Linked DNA regions of Homo sapiens: region 2 is linked to region 1. The links come from fine-mapping of genetic effects on gene expression. A gene starts in region 1. The other region holds a variant in brackets. All regions are shown on one strand. Distances are between the middles of the regions.

What was found.
Region 2: its variant is fine-mapped to the expression of CARF in whole blood (TOPMed, PIP 0.97).

Annotation. Positions count from the first base shown.
Region 1 is chr2:202,909,249-202,914,631 of GRCh38, reverse strand. It overlaps CARF (calcium responsive transcription factor), which reads right to left and starts at 2,357. Exons shown (of 17, transcript NM_024744.17): 1 at 1,530-2,357. WDR12 (WD repeat domain 12) reads left to right here and starts at 2,959. Exons shown (of 13, transcript NM_018256.4): 1 at 2,959-3,196. The coding sequence starts at 3,156. RefSeq lists enhancers at 2,077-2,126, 2,227-2,426, 2,467-2,616, 2,627-2,776.
Region 2 is chr2:202,772,851-202,778,233 of GRCh38, reverse strand. ICA1L (islet cell autoantigen 1 like) reads left to right here. Exons shown (of 13, transcript NM_001288622.3): 13 at 1-5,058. It also overlaps the pseudogene PIGYP1. Among named protein-coding and RNA genes, the nearest start is that of ICA1L, 96 kb to the left of the region's middle. The variant CTATT/T (reference allele first, on the strand shown) is at 2,216.

The DNA.
Region 1 (5,383 bases):
AATTTTTGTATTTTTAGCAGAGACGGGGTTTCACCATGTTGGCCAGGCTGGTCTCAAACTCCTGACCTCAGGTGCTCCACCCGCCTCAGCCACCCAAAATGCTGGGATTAGGCTGCTCTTTGAGAGCTTTACAAATTTATTTAATCCTTACAATGACTCTGAGGTAGATCTTCTTGTCTCTGTTTGTAGATAAGAAAACTGGAACTGTCAAGAAACTTGCTTAAGATCACAGAGTGCATTAGGCTTGGATCCATAATCAAATTGGAAAAAAAGAAAAACACAAAGAACAATTAAGACTCCAAAGCCCTAATGCATAGTCTTTGTATCCTATCACACTGTGGCATTATATATATAAAACAAAAAACTTTATAATAAAGAGAAATGTATTTTCCAAACTGTGGTTCTCCAGATAACAATGTGTCTCCATGAGGACCATATAGTAAATACATCCCATAAAAAATGATTACCAACCAAAAGCTTGCAATTAATGTTCCAACTAAAGAAAAAGACTCAAAGTAAAAGCATCAGCTATCCTAGGTACTGTTTGGAGGCAACACCAAACACGACACATAAATCATTGTTGAAAAAAACCGTAAAACATAATGCTGGGTATTTAGTTATGTTGAATGCTAAAACTAATCTTTCCTTAACTAAAGGTCTCCGTCAAATGAAAAGTGTATTTTAGTCAAGTCAGGATTTCTGTTTTGCAAACTGAAAGTCTTATATTATTAAGCATATATTCAGGTTATTTTCCTGATCATAATTTTCAAATCAAATTAAGATCAAACTCTACTGTCAGGTACTGTATATTCTCATTTTGATAAATTTCAAATTAATGATAAAAATGTATTAACCTGCTGGTCAATTATACATTTTATAAATATATTTTAACCAATGACATATTACCAGTAAGTACAGATTCAACGGCAAGATTTCATTAAGAAAGTGTTTCAAGCTTCAGATGCCCAAGACTTATTTAATGTGTAAATCCTCACCACTACAATAACCACATGGTTAAACGATCACCACTTCCATTAGCAAGCTCAAGCCTAATAAGTGATCTCCTGGGACTTCAGCACAGAGGTTTTCTAATTTTATTCCTCCACTCAATGTGGCTATTCTCCCTTATCTATTCACGCTGGCAAAGCTTCTAGTTAAACTGGAATTAGTAACTATTTGATGATAATAATTAACATATACTGAGTGCTTCCGATGCCGCAGTTAATTCTTATAGTTGATAAAAGTGTGGCACAAAAAGGTTAATCAAGTAGCAGAGGCAGGATTTGAACCCAGGAATTCTGGTTCCAGGGCCCGGATTCGGAGCTACAAAGGTGAGTAAACTGAAAAGAGTCCTACTTTTATTGTCATTGCTCTCTAATAAAAATTATTTTTTCTTCCAATTGTTTAAATCTCTTCTCATTCTCTATTTAAATATTAGGCGTTCATTTAAACATTAGGCGTCTACCTTACAGTAGGACATCTTTAAACAACGTAAAAAAGGAAAGCTTTGTCTTCACCTGCACACATACCGGTCTGCCCATAAATTTTGCAATCCAGTTCTGCCTGATTCTAAACTGCTTGTCTCTTGAAGCGAATGCCTTAAAAAGTGACATTGGGATCAGGATAGTTATCTCCATCCATCCTCCCTCAGAAAAACAACTATATTAGAGTAATTCTTGGGACCATTGAGAACAATACACAGGCCTTTGGGTAACTTCAAGACAAAAAAGGCAAAAAGTCGGGGAGAAGGTGTGGGAGGATGATTTTCCCCTTCTAAACGTAAGGTATAAAAGGGCTCAGAAAGCGGAAAAAGAACCCTAAAAAGCAAGGTGCGGGACGGCGTGAGGGACCACACATTGGGCGCTCCGCCCAAGGGGTCCGGCTCCTTCTCCGCGGCGATGGCGCGTCCTTGGGCTCAGCAACCCTCCTGAAGACACCTAACCTCCTCCTTCTCCAGCCTGCCCCTCTGGGGCCTGCGAGCCCCGTCCCGGGCCGGGGGTCGGAAGCCGTGCCATGTGGGACCCCGAAAAGGCCCCCAAGCTTGGCGCGGAAGGCGCCGCCAGTGACCGGCTGCGGCTGGGGGCGGAGGCCGGCAGTTGCTCGGAGCTCCGGCGGGTCAGGAGGTGACGGGAGGAGGAGGAGGCAGGAGGAAGACGGGGGGTTGGGAGGTAGCGTCCGGTAGGTCTGCGCAGACAGCGCTGCCAGACCTCTGACTCCCCCAGTCCTGCCGCCGCCGATAGCCCCACAAGGCGACATGGGAAGTCCGCCGGAGCAGAGGGGAGAAAATTCAAAACGAGTCTACTCAACCTCGTCTTGGCTCCGAGGCCCCGCCATGGAGACCAGCATAATGCGCAGGCGCGCCCCACCGGGAGCGCGCAGAGCAGTCCCACGACAGTAGGACCACTATCGGCCACCGTCGACCGTTTCCTCTCTCATCCGTTCTTTTCTTTGTATTTCCGCCTCTCGCCTCTCTCTAAAAGCCGCAGTTAGAGGCGAGATTTAGGAAAAACCTCTGCCGAGTGAGCCTCTGGTTGGGAATATGTATGAGAAAAAAAAACTGGCAAGGCGTTAGTCAAGCAAAGCTGAAGGCAGAGGAAATTTGATATCTGGCTGGAGTCTAGAGGATTTAATGCAAATAAGATACTCTGAGGGCAGCGTGGCAAAAAAAGACTACAATTCCCGGTGGTCACAGCGTTTGAGAAGCGATGCTTTCTGAGACTTGTAGTAACTAGGAGCTGTGTTTGAACTATCCAGGCTCAGGACAGCCTCTTGAAAAAAAATTTTTTATTAATAAAGCGGATTTGAGTGGGATCTTTTTCCTAATCGATTACGGGCCCACACGTATGGGAAGAATTCTAACAATGATTAAAGGGACATGCTACCTTTACGACTATCCTTTTCTAATCGATGACTCCTAAATCTAGGAGTAGGTAGTCGATGTTTGTGGTCTGGGCGTCTGTAGAAGGGCAACCTCGTGCTTTCTGCAGAGGAGACCGGAGGGCAGAAGGCAGAGTCCAGGCTTAGACTGCAGTTCCTCGCTTACCTGTGCAGTCTAATTTTGAGCTGCCTCTTTGTAGTCTTAAAAGGCAGGAGCTTCGTGTTGTGGGTCTGCTAACCCGTACGTTTCCGTGGGCAAGTCGTGTGTACTCCTCGCCATGGCTCAGCTCCAAACACGCTTCTACACTGATAACAAGAAGTAAGTAAGCGTTCCAGCCTTCTCTCCCTTCCCCAGGTTCCTTTCCGACCACCCCTTTGGTATGACCTTGTGGATCCCTGGTTGTTTCTGCTGTCACCCCCACCCTTTTTTCTGAGATTACCTGCTTTCTAACCAGCTTCGTAGGTTCTATATAATTTGAATTGTGAGTGTGGAGGAGGCTGAAGGGCTTCAGGTTTGCTTTCTGAATGAAACATTTTATATGTGTAATTTAAAAATGAACAGTGGGCCTTGTTATAGGGTGTCTGCTAGTGGTGGTTCACAGTTTTTGAAAACGGAAAAAAAGTTTTTGAAAATGAAAAAACATATTTACCATTTATGTATATCTATATAGATATATAAACATTTTAACCAGTGGTCTCAAGGTCTGTTAGCACTCATTCGAAAACTAATTATATGCTGCCTTGTGGTATATATTGCATTGTTAGCTTTCTTTGTGTTTGCCTGGTCTCTTCCAACTATATTGGAAGTCTCTTGAGGGCAGGGACTATATATTAATTAAGCTTCTTGGATTGGCTGAGTCAACAAAAAATGTCAAATTTTTCAGTGAAAATGATAATATTTGTCGTGTTAATAAGCTAAAGTTAGCCATAAACTAGGAAACTCCCACCTGAGTTACATCTGTGGTTTTGTTTGTAGCTTTATGAGGAGAGCTAGTAAATCATCTTCTCTCCCCTTGTGTTGTTGCTGAAAGTATACATAAATCGTATTATCAATGCACCTGAGTATATGTACTTACTTACATACATTGCCTTAATACTTCTCTAGGAATGTGGTGATGCATTAACATAACCACTGTGTTTTTTAATTGAAAGTAGGTTTTTTTGTTTTTCTTAAAATAAAATTTTTTGAAATATGTGGGGCTTTTTTTTGTTTGTTTGGTTTGGTTTTTTTGGAGACAGAGTCTCACTCTGTTGCCCAGGCTGGACTGCAGTGGTGGGATCTTGGCTCACTGTAACCTCTGTCTCCCGGGTTCAAACAATCTTCCCGCCTCAGCCTCCAGAGTAGCTGGAATTACAGGCATGTGCCACCAAGCCTGGCTAATTTTTGTATTTTTAGTAGAGACAGGAATTTGTCTTGGTGGCCATGCTGGTCTCGAACTCCTGGCCTCAAGTGATCCGCCCACCTCGGTCTCCCAAAGTCCTGGAATTACAGGCATGACCCACTGCGTCCAGCCTTGAGATAATTGTTGATTCACATGAAGTTGTAAGAGATAATAGGCCACTGTGTTTTAACCCCTGAAATGAATGGATACATGTCATATGTGTGTGTGTGAATTTAGGCCCTCCAAAAGGTAAAAAAATGTAGAAATTAAAATTCTTTGCCGAGTGCTGTGGCTCATGTCTGTAATCCCAACAGTCTGGGAGGCTGAGGAACGCAAATCGCTTATCTCAGGAGTTTGAGACCAGCCTGAGCAACATGATGAAACCCCGTCTCTACCAAAAATACAAAAAATTTGCCAGGCATGGTGGTGCCCACCTGTGGTCCCAGCTACTTGGGAGGCTGAGGTGGGAGGATCTCTTGAGCCTGAGAGGCAGAGGTTGCAGTGAGCCAGGATCAATGCAACTGCACTCCAGCCTGGGGAACATAGTGAGACTCTATCTCAAATAAATAAATAAATAAATAAATAAATAATAAAATTCTTGCTTTTTCTTTTTGCTTAATATTATGGTCAGTAAAATGGAGGCGGGGGGCTAATATAATTGTCACACACACACACAAGAATATACATATATGTGAATTATATACATAAATATATAGCTATAGCCTTATTGCTCAAAGTGTGGTTTGAGGATCATCAGCATCATATTTGCAAAGTTGTGCAACCATCACCACAGTCAATTTTAGAACATTTTTCATCATCCTTGAGCTGTTTGTTAAATAATACCCCCAGCCCTAGGCAACCACTGATCTACTTTCTAGCTCTGTAACTTTCTCTCTTCTGGACGTTTTGAATAAATGGAATTATATAATGTGATCTTTTGTGACTGGCTTCTTTCACTTACTATGATTTTTAAAAAATGGTTTCATTATATCATAGTATATATTAGCACTTCATTCCTTTTTGTGGCCAAATAATAGGCCATTGAATGGAGGTACCATATTTTTCCATTCATCAGCTGGTGGGCATTTAGGTTGTTTATACCTTTTAGCTATTATGAATAGTTG
Region 2 (5,383 bases), 140 kb after region 1:
TGTTTTATATTTGTCATCCAGTCCATTGCATTTCCATAAGAAGACATTTTGACTGGCTGGGTGCGGTGGCTCACGCTTGTAATCCCAGCACTTTGGGAGGCTGAGGCAGGCGGATCACGAGGTCAGGAGATGGAGACCATCCTGGCTAACATGGTGAAACCCCGTCTCTACTAAAAATACAAAAAATTAGCCAGGCGTGGTGGCACGTGCCTGTAGTCCCAGCTACTCCGGAGGCTGAGGCAGGAGAATGGCGTGAACCCGGGAGGCGGAGCTTGCAGTGAGCTGAGATGGCGCCACTGCACTCCAGCCTAGGCAACAGAGCAAGACTCCGTCTCAAAAAAAAAAAAAAAAAAAAAAGACATTTTAACTAAGTTATTCACAGTAGCTTCCATGTGCTCTTAGTTCTATTCTAAACAGGCTTATTTAGAAAAGGATTGCTTGTAATGTTTGTCATGGTACATAGAAAACATTGGACCAGAGTAGGTAAAATGCAGTCCATGTCCCATCCATAGCCATCTACAATAGTAACTGCCCACAGGCTCTCCAGAAAACTACTACAATGGCCAAGTACAGTATAGGCTGGAAAGACCTTATCTGAAGGTCAGAAACATTGACTCAGAAAAAAGGTATGAAGTCTTTCCATAAAATCTTTTCACAATATTACTCCTATTTCTTTTAGATTTTAATGAGCCATTACTTATCTCTTCAGAAGACTTAAGTCTTCCTTTATACTCAGTGAAATTTCCCAGAATGTAATACTGTCACTGTTCTGCCAAGTTCCAATCACCAAGATCATGATTACGAATCCCAATCTGAATTCTATACCCATGGTGACTCTGATGCTCTCAACTTTTGAGTGCCTCAAAAAATGCTAAAACTTTGGCTGGGCATGGTGGCTCACGCCTGTAATCCCAGCACTTTGGGAGGCCATGGCGGGTGGAACATTTGAGGGCATGAGTTCGAGACCAGCCTGGCCAACATGGTGAAACCCTGTCTCTACTAAAAATACAAAAATTAGCCAGGTGTGGAGGTACATGCCTGTAATCCCAGCTACTCAGGAGGCTGAGGCAGAAGAATTGCTTGAACCCAGGCGGCAGAGGTTGCAGTGAGTCGAGATTGCACCACTACACTCCAGCCTGGGCAACAGAGAGCGACTCTCTCAAAAAAAAAAAAAAAAAAAAAAAAAAAAGCTAACTTTATGTCTTGAGAGTTTGTACCATTTTTCTTTGTAGTGGTCACCTTGCTAATGCATTAGTTCTGAGATATTTATCTCCCTCACATGTGTGCAAGGAAGTCCCTGTTATCGAATACAGATACTTTAACAAGCAGACAAAGCAGAAACCCAAAGTCCATACTAGGAACACCCTAAATTTTCCAAAAGCAAAAGTTCTCCCGAAATGGAGACATACAAGGGACTTTTATTATTCTGTTACTAGTTTCTATAACATTTCTTCTTTCAACAGAGTATATGTTTCCCATTTAACCCAGAGCAACATTAACTTCCTTAGCAAGTCCAGTTCTAACTTCCAACAAGTCCAACCACTGTTTTTGAAGAGCATATCAGTAACTATATTAAGATGAAGGTAACCACATTCGTATTTTCTCAAGATTAGTTATTTGAAGCTCAGCAGTTTTTGTGGTCAGAAAGAAATTTTGCTCTATTAAACCAATACTGCTAATATAAAAAACCACCACACTGAAGAAACGAGGGAAAGGACGGGATAAGCACAGAACAGAGAATGACTGGTTGCTTTTTGTCTCAATCTAGATAATCCATTCAATAAGAAGTAAATTAATTATCCTTAACCAATGGTAGGCTGAGAACAACCCTCAAAATAGATATTTTTTATGTTAAATGGGGAGAAATATCTATACTTTATGTTATACTGGATAAAAATGTGTTTTAAGTCTAAAAAAAACCAGACGAGCTAAACTTTGCCTAGTGTGTCTACAACCATTTTTTAGGAGACGCAGGAATACCAGGGCATAATAAGATCAGATTGGTGTAATTTTGTATGTTTTTGAAATCCTTCATTAATTGTAGAACCTTGATATGATTAGAAACAAACTGTATTTCAACAAACAGGTTTCAGTATTTGCACACTGAAAAAGTGTTTTGTATTTTAACTATAAATATTTCACGTATCTGTATAGACCATCTAGAAATGTAGAGGTCTTACAGCATTAGAACGAAGGAAGTTTACATGTGCTCTAT[CTATT/T]TTTCTGAGCCTCTTTTAATAAAGATTGCAAGAAGGCATAAAACAAGAGTTTGTTTCCTGAAGTTTTTAGTACAATTATTGTTTTCCTATTCAAAAACTTGGGTTTTACCTCAAGATCATAGTATTAGGAAAGTACATTGAGTTGATACGGACATGGGAGAACGAAAATAAAACCAGGGCAATTAATATCCTTGTAAGGCCAGGCGCGGTAGCTCACGCCTATATAACAGCACTTTGGGAGGCCAAGGCAGGCAGATCACTTGAAGTTGGGAGTTTGAGACCACCCTGGCCAACATGGTGAAACCCCATCTCTATGAAAAATATAAAAATTAGCTGGGCATGGTGGCAGATGCCTGTAATCCCAGCTACTTGGGAGGCTGAGGCAGGAGAATCGCTTGAACCCGGGAGGTGGAGGTTGCAGTGAGCTGAGATCAGGCCATGCACTCCAGCCTGGGTGACAGAGTGAGACTCCGTCTCAAAAGAAAATCCTTGTGAGATGAATTCGTTCTTATTTCATATACAAGGGGACTATGTAAGATATGGGAAATAATATAATGTACGTTATTTATGTAAATACTTTCAGTAACAAAAACTAACAAATATCAAAAATCTGAGCCTAGACACAAACAATTAAATATAAGCCATAGTATGTAACCTGACTTATTGAAGGCAGGAATAAAAAGAAGAGAGCCAGAATTGATTCAGTTATTTTTGTCTTCCATAGTGTTGGCAGGGCCCTGCATTTCTCTACCTTGAGCAATGAAGCAGTCCCAGAATTTTGGAATATAGAAATTAGGAAGGAAAAACGAACTTTAAAATATTAATTTAGTAGAACTGAAAGTAATGCATTTCATGCAACAGTAAAGTGCTTAAACATGGCAAAGAAAACTAAGGGACAAGATAAGAAAAATGGTTGGTAAAGATGGGTCACATCCAGAAGCCCAACATAAGCTATTTTTCCATCTTTTTCTGTACCATTTAAAAGACTACTAAAGAGTTCAAAACAAACTGTCCTTGGCATTTAAAGTCAAAACATGGTTCTTCACTCAGTGGTGTAAATTAACTACTCATTGGCCAAAGAGTAAATACAAAAAGGAGATGAAGTTCTGACTGGTGTTGTGGGTGAGATTTTGCAGTGTATGTTTTTACATTTGTAGTGTACGTTTTAAACTTCCGGTTTTCTTGCTGCCTCAACATCTCCACAAACAGGCTGTGAGCACCTGGCCCAGTGTGATATGGGTGGCCCCTGCCACAAGTTTCCCTTGCTACCTTGCCCATGACCTAGTAACATTTAAATGCACCAGTGAAATTCTCTTTTTCTTGTGTGCTTCTCCCTGACCCAAAGGCTCCTGCCCATGTCTTAGGCCTCTCCGCTCCCCACCTGCTTGGCTGAGCCCCCTCCCATGTGACCCCCTCTCAGCATGCAGTGACTGGTCTCTCTAGGACCTGTGAGTATATTACAACTTTTTTTCCTGTGTCTCTCCTGTGATATCTCTTGTGGCTAAACCTCACTGACCATAACCTAAAAAAACACATACAAAAAACATGAAAGAAAAAGTTGTTTCTTGAGCTGGCCTGGACGAACGGGGAGCCAGGGGCTCGACCCTGGCTGTTGGAGGCGCAGTGAGGCCTGGTCTCCGGCTGCCAGACCACGCTGAGCGGAGCGCGCGGCAGGCTCGCCTCAGCGCTGCGGGGAACGCGCGCGCCGCCGTCCGCGGTCGCCCGTAGGTGCCTGCACGCGTCGGGGTCACGGCCTTTGGCCGACAGGAGCGAGAAGACTCAGGAGCCGCCCCGCGCCTTCGATCCGGCGCTGCTGGAGTTCCTGGTGTGCCCGCTCTCCAAGAAGCCGCTCAGATATGAAGCATCAACAAATGAATTGATTAATGAAGAGTTGAGAATAGCTTATCCAATCATTGATGGGATTCCTAATATTATCATATTAGGCAGCTAGGATGACACATCAAAGAAGCAAGAAGTGGAGCAGCGCTAGTTCATAATTTAAAAAAATAAAACAGCCAACTCTTCTTAGTACCATATACCTTTTAAAACACAGTGGCAAGTAATAAGCGGAAGAGAAGAATCTTTCTGTCTCTTTCTACGTTGACTGTTCTTATTCCACTGGTTTATTTAGCAGGACTGTTCCACTCAGCCTCTGTAGAAGAAAACTTCCCACAGGGCTGCACTTGCACAGCTAGCCTTTGCTTTTACAGCCTGCTCTTGCCTATTACCATACCGGTGTATGTATTCTTCCACCTTTGGACCTGGATGGTTATTAAACTCTTCATGCATAACTGATGCAACTAGAGTCAATATGCTGTATATATTAATGATAGCTCTTGGGCATCTATCTCTGAAAGCTCAAATGGATGGAATTTAGTTTGTGGGAAAGAGGCTTTGCTTTGAGCATATCAGGCTTAGGACTGTGGACGGCTTAAGTTGCAGACGCTTCTTTTATTGTACTCTTGTTCTGCCCGTGTTTTTTGAAGGCTCTGACATAACTGCTTTATCAGAAGAAACATTTTGACAGTGTCTTGTTGGAGATAAACATCCCTAATTGACATGTGATGACTACTTCTTATTCCATTCATCTAAGAGTCATTGAAATTTTGTTTTCTTTGTTTGTTTAGCTTCAAGGTCTTTGGTAGTCACATGTTAGGGATGACTGAAATAATTCCAAAGGAGTGATGTTGGAATAGTCCCTCTAAGGGAAAGAAATGCATTTGAACGAATGTGATATAAAACCACATAATCAAATAGAAATTTCATGTACTTACAAAAATTTAGTTTGTAAAATTACCTTCATTTCTTTGACATTAAATGCTTATATTAGCAATAAAGATGTTGACACTTTCTCATAAAAAATTTAAAAAAATAAAAAGTTGTTTCTTTTTTCCCATTTTAAAGTAATATCTTCTGAAAGAAAAAAATCAGCCATAGCACTACCATCTAGGAATAACCACTACTAACATATTTTTGGTTATTTTTTTGTAGTGCCTTCAAGCACACATTTGAATTGTGATCCGGATGATTTTACTGTCCCCTCTCTCTTAAATGGGCATGCCAAGTCACAGAGATTTAAAAACCAATTATAGGCCGGGTGAGGTGGCTCAAGCCTGTAATCCCAGCACTTTGAGGGCCGAGGCAGGCAGATTGCCTGAGGTCGA